Regions from separate parts of the Homo sapiens genome. Here regions 1, 2 and 3 are each linked to region 4. Evidence: fine-mapped expression QTL. A gene starts in region 4. Each other region holds a variant in brackets. All regions are shown on one strand. Distances are between the middles of the regions.

Region 1 (2,752 bases), 110 kb after region 4:
GCAAATCAAAACCACAATGAGATACCATCTCACACCAGTTAGAATGGTGATCATTAAAAAGTCAGGAAAACAACAGGTTCTGGTGAGGATGTGGAGAAATAGGAACACTTTTACACTGTTGGTGGGACTGTAAACTAGTTCAACCATTGTGGAAGACAGTGTGGCAATTCCTCAAGGATCTAGAACTAGAAATACTATTTGACCCAGCCATCCCATTACTGGGTATATACCCAAAGGATTATAAATCATGCTACTATAAAGACACATGCACACGTATGTTTATTGCGGCACTATTCACAATAGCAAATACTTGGAACCAACCCACATGTCCATCAGTGATAGACTGGGTTAAGAAAATGTGGCACATATACAACATGGAATACTATGAAGCCATAAAAAAGGATGAGTTCATGTCCTTTGTAGGGAGATAGATGAAGCTGGAAACCATCATTCTGAGCAAACTCTTGGAAGGACAGAAAACCAAACACTGCATGTTCTCACTCATAGGTGGGAACTGAACAATGAGAACACTTGGACACAGGGTGGGGAACACCACAAACCGGGGCCTGTTGTACAGTCAGGGGATGGGGGAAGGATAGCATTAAGAGAAATAATGTAAATGACGAGTTAATGGGTGCAGCACACCAACTTGGCACATGTATACATATGTAACAAACCTGAATGTTGTGCACATGTACCCTAGAACTTAAAGGATAATAATTTTAAAAAGGGCAAAAAAAAAAAGATTTAGCAAGACTTGGTGTCCTTTTTAGACCCAAGTGTCAAAGCCCTGTAACTTAATGTCACAAGTACTTTTAAATCACATACAGAAAGATACATGGATGTAAGAACCTCAATTAAAAAAAAAAATTAATCTCAGTTTTTTCCTAAGCAAAGCAAAACTTTAATAATAATGATATAGAAATTATTTTAATAAAATGTAAAATTTGTTAGGTCAGTTACCAAAAGGAAAAAGACCTTCTGCAATGTACATAATATTATTTTGTAAGAAAACATTTCCTTTACATCTTTAAGAAAGTATTGTTAGCATCAGGCTACAACAAACAGATCTTGAAGAAAAAAAAATATGAGCTGAAAATGAGTTGAAGGAGATTGTTATTATTTCATGCCTTTTAAAAGGGGAGAGAAAACCAGAAACAGTGAGATGCACTAAACATTAAACTTTGGGTTAAAAAATTAAAATCTCTTATAATTTATTAAGAGTAAATCAATCCCTTTAGGGAATTTTATTGTTCTAATCAATTCTTTAGTGTACAAGTGTTTTTTTTTTACATCAAGCCCATTCTCTAGAAAGACCATTATAATTTCCCTTTAATTA[T/C]AGATAACTTGATCATATAAATGTTTTTTTTAATAAAACCTTTTATTGTGACTTACACAGACCATTAATGATATGTTTGGACTTTCTGGTTTGTCCTGAACATTCCTCTTTCTTAAACAACCAGTCATTTTATTCTAGGTCTAAATTTACCGTACAAGATTCTGTAACTGCCCAAGGGGTTCGCTTTATCTGCTGCCTAGACAGAGTCAATTTATCAAGACAGGGCAATTGTAATAAAGAGTAATTAATGCAGAGCTGGCTGTGCAGGAGACCAGAATGTTATTATTACTCAAATCAGTCTCCCTGACAACTCTGGTATTTGTGTTTTTAAAATTAATTTGGTGGGTGGGGGATGGGGACAGTGAATTGGGAGTGCTGATTGGTTGGCTTGGGGATGAAATCATAGGGAGTCCAGGCTGTTCTCATCTGCTGAGTCAGTTCCTGGGTGGGAGCCACAGAACTGGTTGGCAGATCCAGGTGGGGCCATCTGGTTGTTAAAAATGCAAAAACCTGAAAAGACATCTCAAAAGGACGATCTTAGGTTCACAATAGTGACGTTACCTTCAAGAGTAATTGGGGAAGTTGTAAATCTAATGACCTGTGGAATAATGGCGGGTAATATTTAGAATTCCAGCCCCTCTCATCTTGACTTGGTGGCTGGTGGCCTTTCATTTGTTTTATAAGAACAGTTTAGCCTTTTGGGGAGGGCTATTATATAAACTATACACTAAATCCCTTCCCAAAGCTAGTTTGGCCTATGCCCAGGAATGAACAAGGACAGTTTAGAGGTTAGAAGCAAGATGGGGTCAGTTAGGTCTGATATCTTTCATTGTCATAATTTTCTCAGTTATGATTTTTACAAAATGGCTTCAATGCTTTCTCATGTAAAATTATTTCTTTTTAAGCTTTCTTACCAAAAAATGCCTCTTTATCTCATACCGTTCTTTACATTTCCCCTATTTCCTGGTTCCTTTAAACTTGTTTTATACATAACCTTTAAATAAGCTTTTAATTAGACGAAAATTGTTCACCTTTTTAAAAAGGACACTTTTTTTTAGAAAGAATGTTTTCCTACAATATATTTTTATCAGAAAATACCCAAATAATGAAATATCATTTAATTTAACTTTAGATTCTAAATTATGACATTTGTCTACAAGTATTTATCCCATTATATTTACCTAATTATTTTATTTTATTCATTTACCTAGATTATTTATGAAAACTACGATAGTCATCATTTAAAGTTATGAAACTCACCATTACAAAATTCTAACTGAGGCAGTGAAAAATATATGACCTAACTTACTCCATCTTGCTTCTAACCTCCAAGCTTGTCCTTATTCATTTCTGGACTTTGGGAGGAACTTATAGTTTAGCTTTGAAACAAAGATGGTAACAGTCCTTTCCCAA
Region 2 (2,752 bases), 50 kb after region 4:
GTGGAACATTCATTTCTTCCTGATTTGCTAAGGATTGATCAACCTCCAGCAAAATGTATGATTAGTGAGTGTTTCAGTTGGTGCATCAATTAAATGAGAACCAATCATAGAACATTGAAGCTAAAAAGGACCAGAGAGCTTCTAGGATGAATCTGTCTTAGAGATGAGAAAAATAAAGGCTCAGAGAGGGAAGCTAACTTAACTCTGATCAGACTTAGTTTGTTGCAGAAGTGACCTTTCTGTCTCATATTTATGTCTTGAATATATTCACTACATGAATACACAGACTACCCATTTTATCTTAGTCTACTTCTTTCTTCTCTCTTTGGGCCTGAATAAAGACCAGAACTGATAGACAGCTAAAGGATATTGCAAGCATCATTATTGGAATTGGGAGATTCCACAGAACAATCTGAGAATGATCTCATATCAAATCCAATCAGATGAGTTATTCTGAGACTAATTCCAATAGTTCTAGAGACTTTTTTTTTTATGGTGGACATTGTTTTTATTGTGTAAATAAGCAATTTTTAAAGTATATTTAAAGAAATGAAACATAAGGAAGTGTATAGGCTGTCAGGTATGTGGGGAAGTGAAGTTCATGTAGTTTTCATGTGGAGCCCATACAGATTTTATTATAGTCAATTTTAGTGAAATTTATCGTTGGTCAGATGAAGGTTTTTTTCCTTCATTCAGCAAATAACTAATGACTGCCTACTATGTGCTAGGTGCCGAAGATAGAGAGATAAATAACACTTAGTCACTCTAAGCTGAAATTGCTCAGCATATGAAAGTGGAGGAATATTTGTAGGTGATTTTGATGTTAAAGTATTTTTTTAACATCACCTGGTAGTAGAAGATTGAGTTATGAAGCTGTCTACCTCTCACCTGTAATAGTTTTAGAGTTGGTTGCTATTTTGGTGTAAGTCTTTTTTGCTGTTCCTCTTTTAACTGCAAATCTTTTTGAGACCAGCACTCACATCCAAAAGGGCAATTGTGATAAAAAAGAAGACAGTATTTTAAGGATTCTGATCAGAACCAGATTCTTTTCTTTTCTTTTTTTTTTTTTTTTTTTTTTTTTTGAGACGGAGTCTTGCTCTGTCGCCTAGGCTGGAGTGCAGTGGCACGATCTCAGCTCACTGCAATCTCTGCCGCCCGGGTTCAAGCGATTCTCCTGCCTCAGCCTCCCCAGTAGTTGGGATTACAGGTGTGTGCCACAACGCCTGGCTAATTTTTGTATTTTTAGTAGACACGGGGTTTCAGCATCTTGGCCAGGCTGGTCTTGAATTCCTGACCTCGTGATCCACCCATCTCGGCCTCCCAAAGTGCAGAACCAGATTCTTAACTGCCACAGACTCTTGTATTATGTAATTTATATACAGAACACAAAGCACTTGATTTGCTTAACTGATGTACTTGATGATACTATAAAACCTATATTATGAGAAAGCATTGCTCCTTCAAAGGAATCAAGTGATAGCAAACACTCGGTCCTGTTTCCAGGTTTTCCTCACTGTTCATTTTGCCTTTGTTCTTGCAGG[G/C]GGAGAATGAAAGGGGCGAGAGCTAAAGTGTGTTGTCAATGCAAGTCAATCCTTAACCAACAATAATTTACAAAAGAACTTTATATTTGCTGTAATCATTAAATTTAGTTACTAATCCCAGGAAAAGGGTTAGTCCTTCCTCCTAGTTTGTAGATTTGCAAATGGAGATGAATAATTGAATCCTATTTTAATCTTTTATCTGCAGTAATCTGGGCTTCTTATTACCGGATATATTTGCATTTTACCTCCAGGCCATGTTAGTTCTTAGAAGATTATTTTCCTCATGAACCCTGTTTTGTTTTGCTTCCTTTCTGCTTCAATTCTAATGTCACATTGCATACCTGGATGTAAACAGCAGTCAGTTTCTCAGATCAAATAGAGCCCTGTAGCAACTTGGAAGACACAGAAGACACACGGACATAAAACTGTATTTATTATCCAGGGAATGTCACTACGGATTAATTATGTTAATGAGGCCATCAAAATCTATGGTAATCTTTCAGGCTTTGTTGTTTGATACCAGATACAGCAAATGAGATAATAATGTGTCTAATTGTGCCTAGCCAGTATTGGTATTTAATAAAACTTTGTCATTGAATCTTTACAATCTTTTTTCACCTTATTTTGAAGACCGTTGATTAAATATCTCATTTTTTTTTCTTCCAGATGAGGGTTTTTTCCTTCATTCAGCAAATATCTGATAAGTGCTTACTATGTACTAGATATTCTTAGGGTAACACCTCTGACAGAATTGTGGAAAGAGGAAGAAATCTAAATGATCAGTTTGAGGCTTTGACATAGGAGATAAGGAACAGGACATTGATATCCTGTTAACAATTATGGAGCTCTTATCAATATTCCAGCTTTTGTTCTAAGGCCTTTGCATGTATAATATTTATTTAAGCCTCAAAACAACTCTTAAGATAACTGCTGTTGTTATCTTCATTTTATAGATAAAAGGCATAGAGAGGTTAAGTAACTTGCCCAAGTTATACAGCTACTAAGTGCCAAAGCTGTGATTTAAACCCAGGCAATCTGGCTTCAAAACCTGCATTCATAACTATAACACCTTACTGTCTCTACTTCCCATGGTACCAGGCACTGCATTAGGCTGCCCTTTTGTATAACTTAATGCCAAATTCTCATATCTGTGCAAGGCAGTGTCAATATTCCATTTTTATAGGGGAGGTAACTTGATGCTTAAAGAAGTT
Region 3 (2,752 bases), 110 kb after region 4:
ATGCCATAAAGATACTCCTTGAGAAGAGCAACCCCAAGACACATAATTGTCAGATTCACCAAGGTTGAAATGACAGAAAAAATGTTAAGGGCAGCCAGAGAGAAAGGTCGCGTTACCCACAAAGGGAAGCCCATCAGACTAACAGCGGACCTCTCAGCAGAAACTCTATAAGCCAGAAGAGAGTGGGGGCCAATATTCAACATTCTTAAAGAAAATAATTTTCAACCCAGAATTTCATATCCAGCCAAACTTCATAGGTGAAGGAGAAATAAAATCCTTTACAGACAAGCAAATGCTGAGGGATTTTGTCACCACCAGCCTTACAAGAGCTCCTGAAGGAAACACTAAACATGAAAAAGAACTGGTACCAGCCACTGGAAAAACATGCCAAATTGTAAAGACCATTGATGCTAGGAAGAAACTGCATCAACTAACAAGCAAAATAACCAGCTAACATCATAATGACAGGATCAAATTCACATATAACAATATTAACCTTAAATGTAAATGGGCTAAATGCCCCCAATTAAAAGACACAGACTGGCAAATTCGATAATGAGTCAAGACGCATCATCAGTGTGCTGTATTCAGGAGACCCATCTCATGTGCAGAGACACACATAGGCTCAAAATAAAGGGATGGAGGAAGATCTACCAAGCAAATGGAAAGCAAAAGAAAAGCAGGGGTTGCAATCCCAGTCTCTGATAAAACAGACTTTAAGCCAACAAAGATCAAAAGAGACAAAGAAGGCCATTACATAATGGTAAAGGGATCAATTCAACAAGAAGAGATAACTATCCTAAATATATATGCACCCAATACAGGAGCACCCAGCTTCATAAAGCAAGTCCTTAGAGACCTACAAAGAGACTTAGACTTCCACACAATAATAATAGGAGACTTTAACACTCCACTGTCAACATTAGACAGATCAATGAGACAGAAAGTTAACAAGGATATCCAGGACTTTAACTCAGCTCTGCACCAAGCAGACCTAATAGACTTCTACAGAACTCTCCACCCCAAATCAACAGAATATACATTCTTCTCCGCACCACATGGCACTTATTCCAAAATTGACCACATAGTTGGAAGTAAAGCGCTCCTCAACAAATGTAAAAGAACAGAAATTATAACAAACTGTCTCTCAGACCACAGTGCAATCAAATTAGAACTCAGGATTAAGAAACTCACTCAAAACCACTCAACTACATGGAAACTGAACAACCTGCTCCTGAATGGCTATTGAGTAAATAACTAAGTGAAAGCAGAAATAAAGATGTTCTTTGAAACCAATGAGAACAAAGACATGACGTACCAGAATCTCTGGGACACATTTAAAGTAGTGTGTAGAGGGAAATTTATAGCACTAAATGCCCACAAGAGAAAGCAGGAAAGATCTAAAATTGACACCCTAAAATCACAATGAAAAGAACTAGAGAAGCAAGAGCAAACACATTCAAAAGCTAGCAGAAGG[T/C]AAGAAATAACTAAGATCAGAGCCAGAACTGAAGGAGATAGAGACATGAAAAACCCTTCAAAAAATCAATGAATCTAGGAGCTGGTTTTTTGAAAAGATCAACAAAATTGATAGACCACTAGCAAGACTAATACAGAAGAAAAGAGAGAAGAATCAAATAGACTCAATAAAAAATGATAAAGGGGATGTCACCACCAATCCCACAGAAATACAAATGACCATCAGAGAATACTATAAACACCTCTGTGCAAATAAACTAGAAAATCTACCTTCCTGGACACATACACCCTCCCAAGACTAAACCAGGAAGAAGTTGAATCCCTGAATAGATCAATAACAGGCTCTGAAATTGAGGTAATAATTAATAGCCTACCAACCAAAAAAAGTCCAGGACCAGATGGATTCACAGCCGAATTCTACCAGAGGTACAAAGAGGAGCTGGTACCATTCCTTCTGAAACTATTCCAATCAATAGAAAACAAGGGAATTCTCCCTAACTCATTTTATGAGGCCAGCATCATCCTGATACCATAGCCTGGCAGAGACACAACAAAAAAAGAGAATTATAGACCAATATCCCTGATGAACATTGAAGTGAAAATGCTCAATAAAATACTAGCAAACTGAATCCAGCAGCACATCAAAAAGCTTATCCATCATGATCAAGTTGGCTTCATCCCTGGGATGCATGGCTGGTTTAACATATGCAAATCAATAAACGTAATCCATTATATAAACAGAACCAAAGACAAAAACCACATGATTGGGGCTGGGAGCGGTGGCTCACACCTGTAGTCCCAACACTTTGGGAGGCCAAGGTGGGCAGATCACGAGGTCAGGAGATTGAGACCATCCTGGCTAACATGGTGAAACCCCATCTCTACTAAAAATACAAAAAATTAGCTGGGTGTGGTGGTGGGTGCCTGTAGTTGCAGCTACTCGGGAGGCTGAGGCAGGAGAATGGCGTGAACCTGGGAGGCGGAGCTTGCAGTGAGCCAAGATCGCGCCACTGCACTCCAGCCTGGGCAACAAAGCGAGACTCTGTCTCAAAAACAAAAACCAAAAAAAAGCCCCACATGATTATCTCAATAGATGCAGAAAAAGCATTCAACAGCCCTTCATGCTAAAAACTCTCAATAAACTAGGTATTGATGGGACGTATCTCAAAATAATAAGAGCTATTTATGACAAACCCACAGCCAATATCATACTGAATGGGCAAAAACTGGAAGCATTCCCTTTGAAAACTGGCACAAGACAGGGATGCCCTCTCTC
Region 4 (2,500 bases):
TCCTCTAAGATCCCCACCAATCCCTGTGGTCTAACTCCAGGTTGCTTCACAAGGTTGTCACCTTCCTGGCTCTTTAGGCTTTTGTGTTTTTGACCCCTGAAGTTTCATTCAAGTTCAGTTTGGAATGTCTCATTCCAAAAGTCAGGAAGACTGGCCTAAAGTTATACCTAAGCCATGCGTTAACCTTATTGTAAGAGTTAAAACATTAAAAAGATTGAATTTTCCCAGTTGCCAAAAGAATGAGACATTCCCCCACCCCCCTTTCTTAAAACATTTTCTTGAGCAAATTGTAATTATAATCCGTGTGTAGTGTGTGTGTGTGTGTGTATCTTTTTAAAAGCTAAATAAGCCTCTTGTCAGATAAAACCCAGGAATTGTTTTCGTCAGGTCCCGGGAGCCAACTCCTTGAAATTTAAGTATCAAGGTAGACAGTGCCCCTATGTTCCAGGCTCGCGGGAGTTACCCGAAGCGCCTTGCTCCAAGCCGTAAGTACCTGTTTGTCACAGAGATAACGTTTTATTTTTCCTTTGGATAAAGGCAATTAACCAACACAGGCGGCCACTCCAACGGTGAACTACCAAAAATTGAATACCAAACCATGTTAACTCGTCTTACATGAGAAGATGCGTGTGCTTTGGCTACATAAAATGTGAGATTTTTGTCTCTCTTTGCAATCTCATTAGTGGATTGCCTGTAACACCCATTCCGGTCTGGTTCGATGCTTACAGAATAATACACCTTTTTTTTCTTTTCTACATTTGTGGAGATTTTCTAGGATGGCAGGAGATTTTTTTAAAATTTTTTTTCTCGACAATATCAATTTATTTAGGTCCCTTACTTTTACTAGCCACCCCCTTCCCACTTGCTTCCAATGGCAAATTAGAATGGTAACTTGCCCCTTGCTCACCTCATGCTTGGCTTTGGGAACCGGTGAGAAACTGCAATCCATTGGCGGTAGGAACCACGATTCCCAGCATTCCCAGTGCTCCGAGTCCTTCGGGCTTCCTTTTCCGGGTCTCGAGGCTGCTGAAACCGAAACCGCTGTGCTGTGGGCGCAGCGCCGAGATTGATTCACCTTCACCTGTGCTGCACTCCAGCTGACCCAAGTAGGAAGCCAGACGAGCTGTAAAACATGAACGGAAGAGTGGATTATTTGGTCACTGAGGAAGAGATCAATCTTACCAGAGGGCCCTCAGGTATGTGCGGAAAGGGTCATATCTGACAGTAGGGGATTAGAGGGTGTAATTGCAGACACCTCTGCTGCTGAGCCGGATTCACCTGGCCTCGGGGCGGGCAGGCCACAACCTAGAGGTTTCGTGCAACGCTTCGGGGTGCTTAGAGAAAATATATTGAAATCCATCATTAGCCAGATACGGGTCTGAGGAATCCACCTCAAAATCCAGTTGGATGAACACAAATATATATAGTCAAGAAGGGGTTCTTTGTGCAAATCGTGCTAGAAAAGCCTTTTTAAAAGCCTGCTTTTTTAGCCTGCTTATCGTGGATACCACATCCTTCTTTCCGTTGCCTGTTCTATCCCTCCCCCTATGAGGGACCGTTTAGTAAAATGGGAGCATAAACGGTGTGGACTCTGAATGCATAGCCGTTTTCCTGCAGCTAGGATCCCTCCCTCGCTCCTTTGATTTCTGGGAACTTCATTTACAATGTCAACTAGAATGTTAAAGCAGGAAGAGCCCTTAGAAATCTTTTATTACACAGGTTCCCAAACTTGGTTCCGCCACAAAATTACCCAGGGCTTTAAAAAAAAAAAAAAAAAAGAAAATAAAAAGTTAAATCTTATCTCCCATCTGCAGGGATTTGGATTTAATACAGATTTATTTTATTTATTTATTTATTTTTTATGAACACCTCATGTGATTTTGAGCAGCCAAACTGCTATCCTCTTCCCCCACTGTGGCTCTTCATTAAACCGGGCTCTTGACATTACTACATTCTGCCTGCTTTCGACTTTGTTTACTTTCCTTTACAACTATTTAGTTGATCAATTAAGAGCTCTTTAGCTTTGGAATTACAGTATCTGGGTCTAAATCTTGTATCTAACCTCTTACTGATTCTTGATACTTATTGGCTAACTTAACTGATGTAAGCCTTAGTTTATCATCTCTAAAATGGGGATGGTTATAAATATACTTCATAGTGTTGTGAGAATGAAATGAGTTAATCCATGTAAAATGTTTACAACATTGCTTGACCTATGGTAAACAGTATGTGTTTCCTACTATTGTTACTGTTAATGGATAAATAGCTAAACTGACACAGTAAATCCTACTAATACTGTATTCCAAGAGTCTCTAATAAATCATCAAGTACTCTGAGCTCCATCTCTGAAATGTTCCTGAAATTCTTTCACTCCTGTTTCCCTTGCCACTACCTAGGACAGTCCATCACCTTTTCTCATCTGCAGTTCTGCAGTAGCTTAATCATGGATAGATTATTCTTTATAAAATATAACTTTCAGAATTATCCATACTTTGTGTCT

Alleles and levels. Alleles are on the strand shown, and positions count from the first base shown. SD is a standard deviation of normalised expression in the study named. Not every link is listed here.
For the expression in thyroid of the gene that starts at base 1,006 in region 4, allele C in region 2 goes with a higher level than allele G (moderate effect, 0.44 SD a copy in GTEx).
In carriers of allele C in region 3, the expression in tibial artery of the gene that starts at base 1,006 in region 4 tends to be lower than with T alone (small effect, 0.21 SD a copy in GTEx).

The links.
Region 1: its variant is fine-mapped to the expression of SYNJ2BP in lung (TOPMed, PIP above 0.99). The same link has a PIP of 0.9 or more in testis and whole blood.
Region 2: its variant is fine-mapped to the expression of SYNJ2BP in thyroid (GTEx, PIP 0.96).
Region 3: its variant is fine-mapped to the expression of SYNJ2BP in tibial artery (GTEx, PIP above 0.99). The same link has a PIP of 0.9 or more in fibroblasts and gastroesophageal junction.

What each region holds. Positions count from the first base shown.
Region 1 is chr14:70,302,738-70,305,489 of GRCh38, reverse strand. The region is part of intron 4 of LOC101928046 (a long non-coding RNA gene); the gene reads right to left. Among named protein-coding and RNA genes, the nearest start is that of COX16, 56 kb to the left of the region's middle. The variant T/C (reference allele first, on the strand shown) is at 1,340.
Region 2 is chr14:70,365,892-70,368,643 of GRCh38, reverse strand. The region is part of intron 3 of SYNJ2BP-COX16 (SYNJ2BP-COX16 readthrough); the gene reads left to right. It overlaps SYNJ2BP (synaptojanin 2 binding protein), which reads left to right. Exons shown (of 4, transcript NM_018373.3): 4 at 1-2,145. Among named protein-coding and RNA genes, the nearest start is that of COX16, 7.6 kb to the right of the region's middle. The variant G/C (reference allele first, on the strand shown) is at 1,542.
Region 3 is chr14:70,306,806-70,309,557 of GRCh38, reverse strand. All of the region lies in intron 4 of LOC101928046 (a long non-coding RNA gene), which reads right to left. Among named protein-coding and RNA genes, the nearest start is that of COX16, 52 kb to the left of the region's middle. The variant T/C (reference allele first, on the strand shown) is at 1,478.
Region 4 is chr14:70,415,596-70,418,095 of GRCh38, reverse strand. It overlaps SYNJ2BP (synaptojanin 2 binding protein), which reads left to right and starts at 1,006. Exons shown (of 4, transcript NM_018373.3): 1 at 1,006-1,196. The coding sequence starts at 1,133. SYNJ2BP-COX16 (SYNJ2BP-COX16 readthrough) reads left to right here and starts at 1,006. Exons shown (of 5, transcript NM_001202549.2): 1 at 1,006-1,196. The coding sequence starts at 1,133. LOC124903339 (a long non-coding RNA gene) reads right to left here and starts at 1,011. Exons shown (of 2, transcript XR_007064237.1): 1 at 908-1,011. RefSeq lists enhancers at 931-1,040, 20-1,219, 1,151-1,230.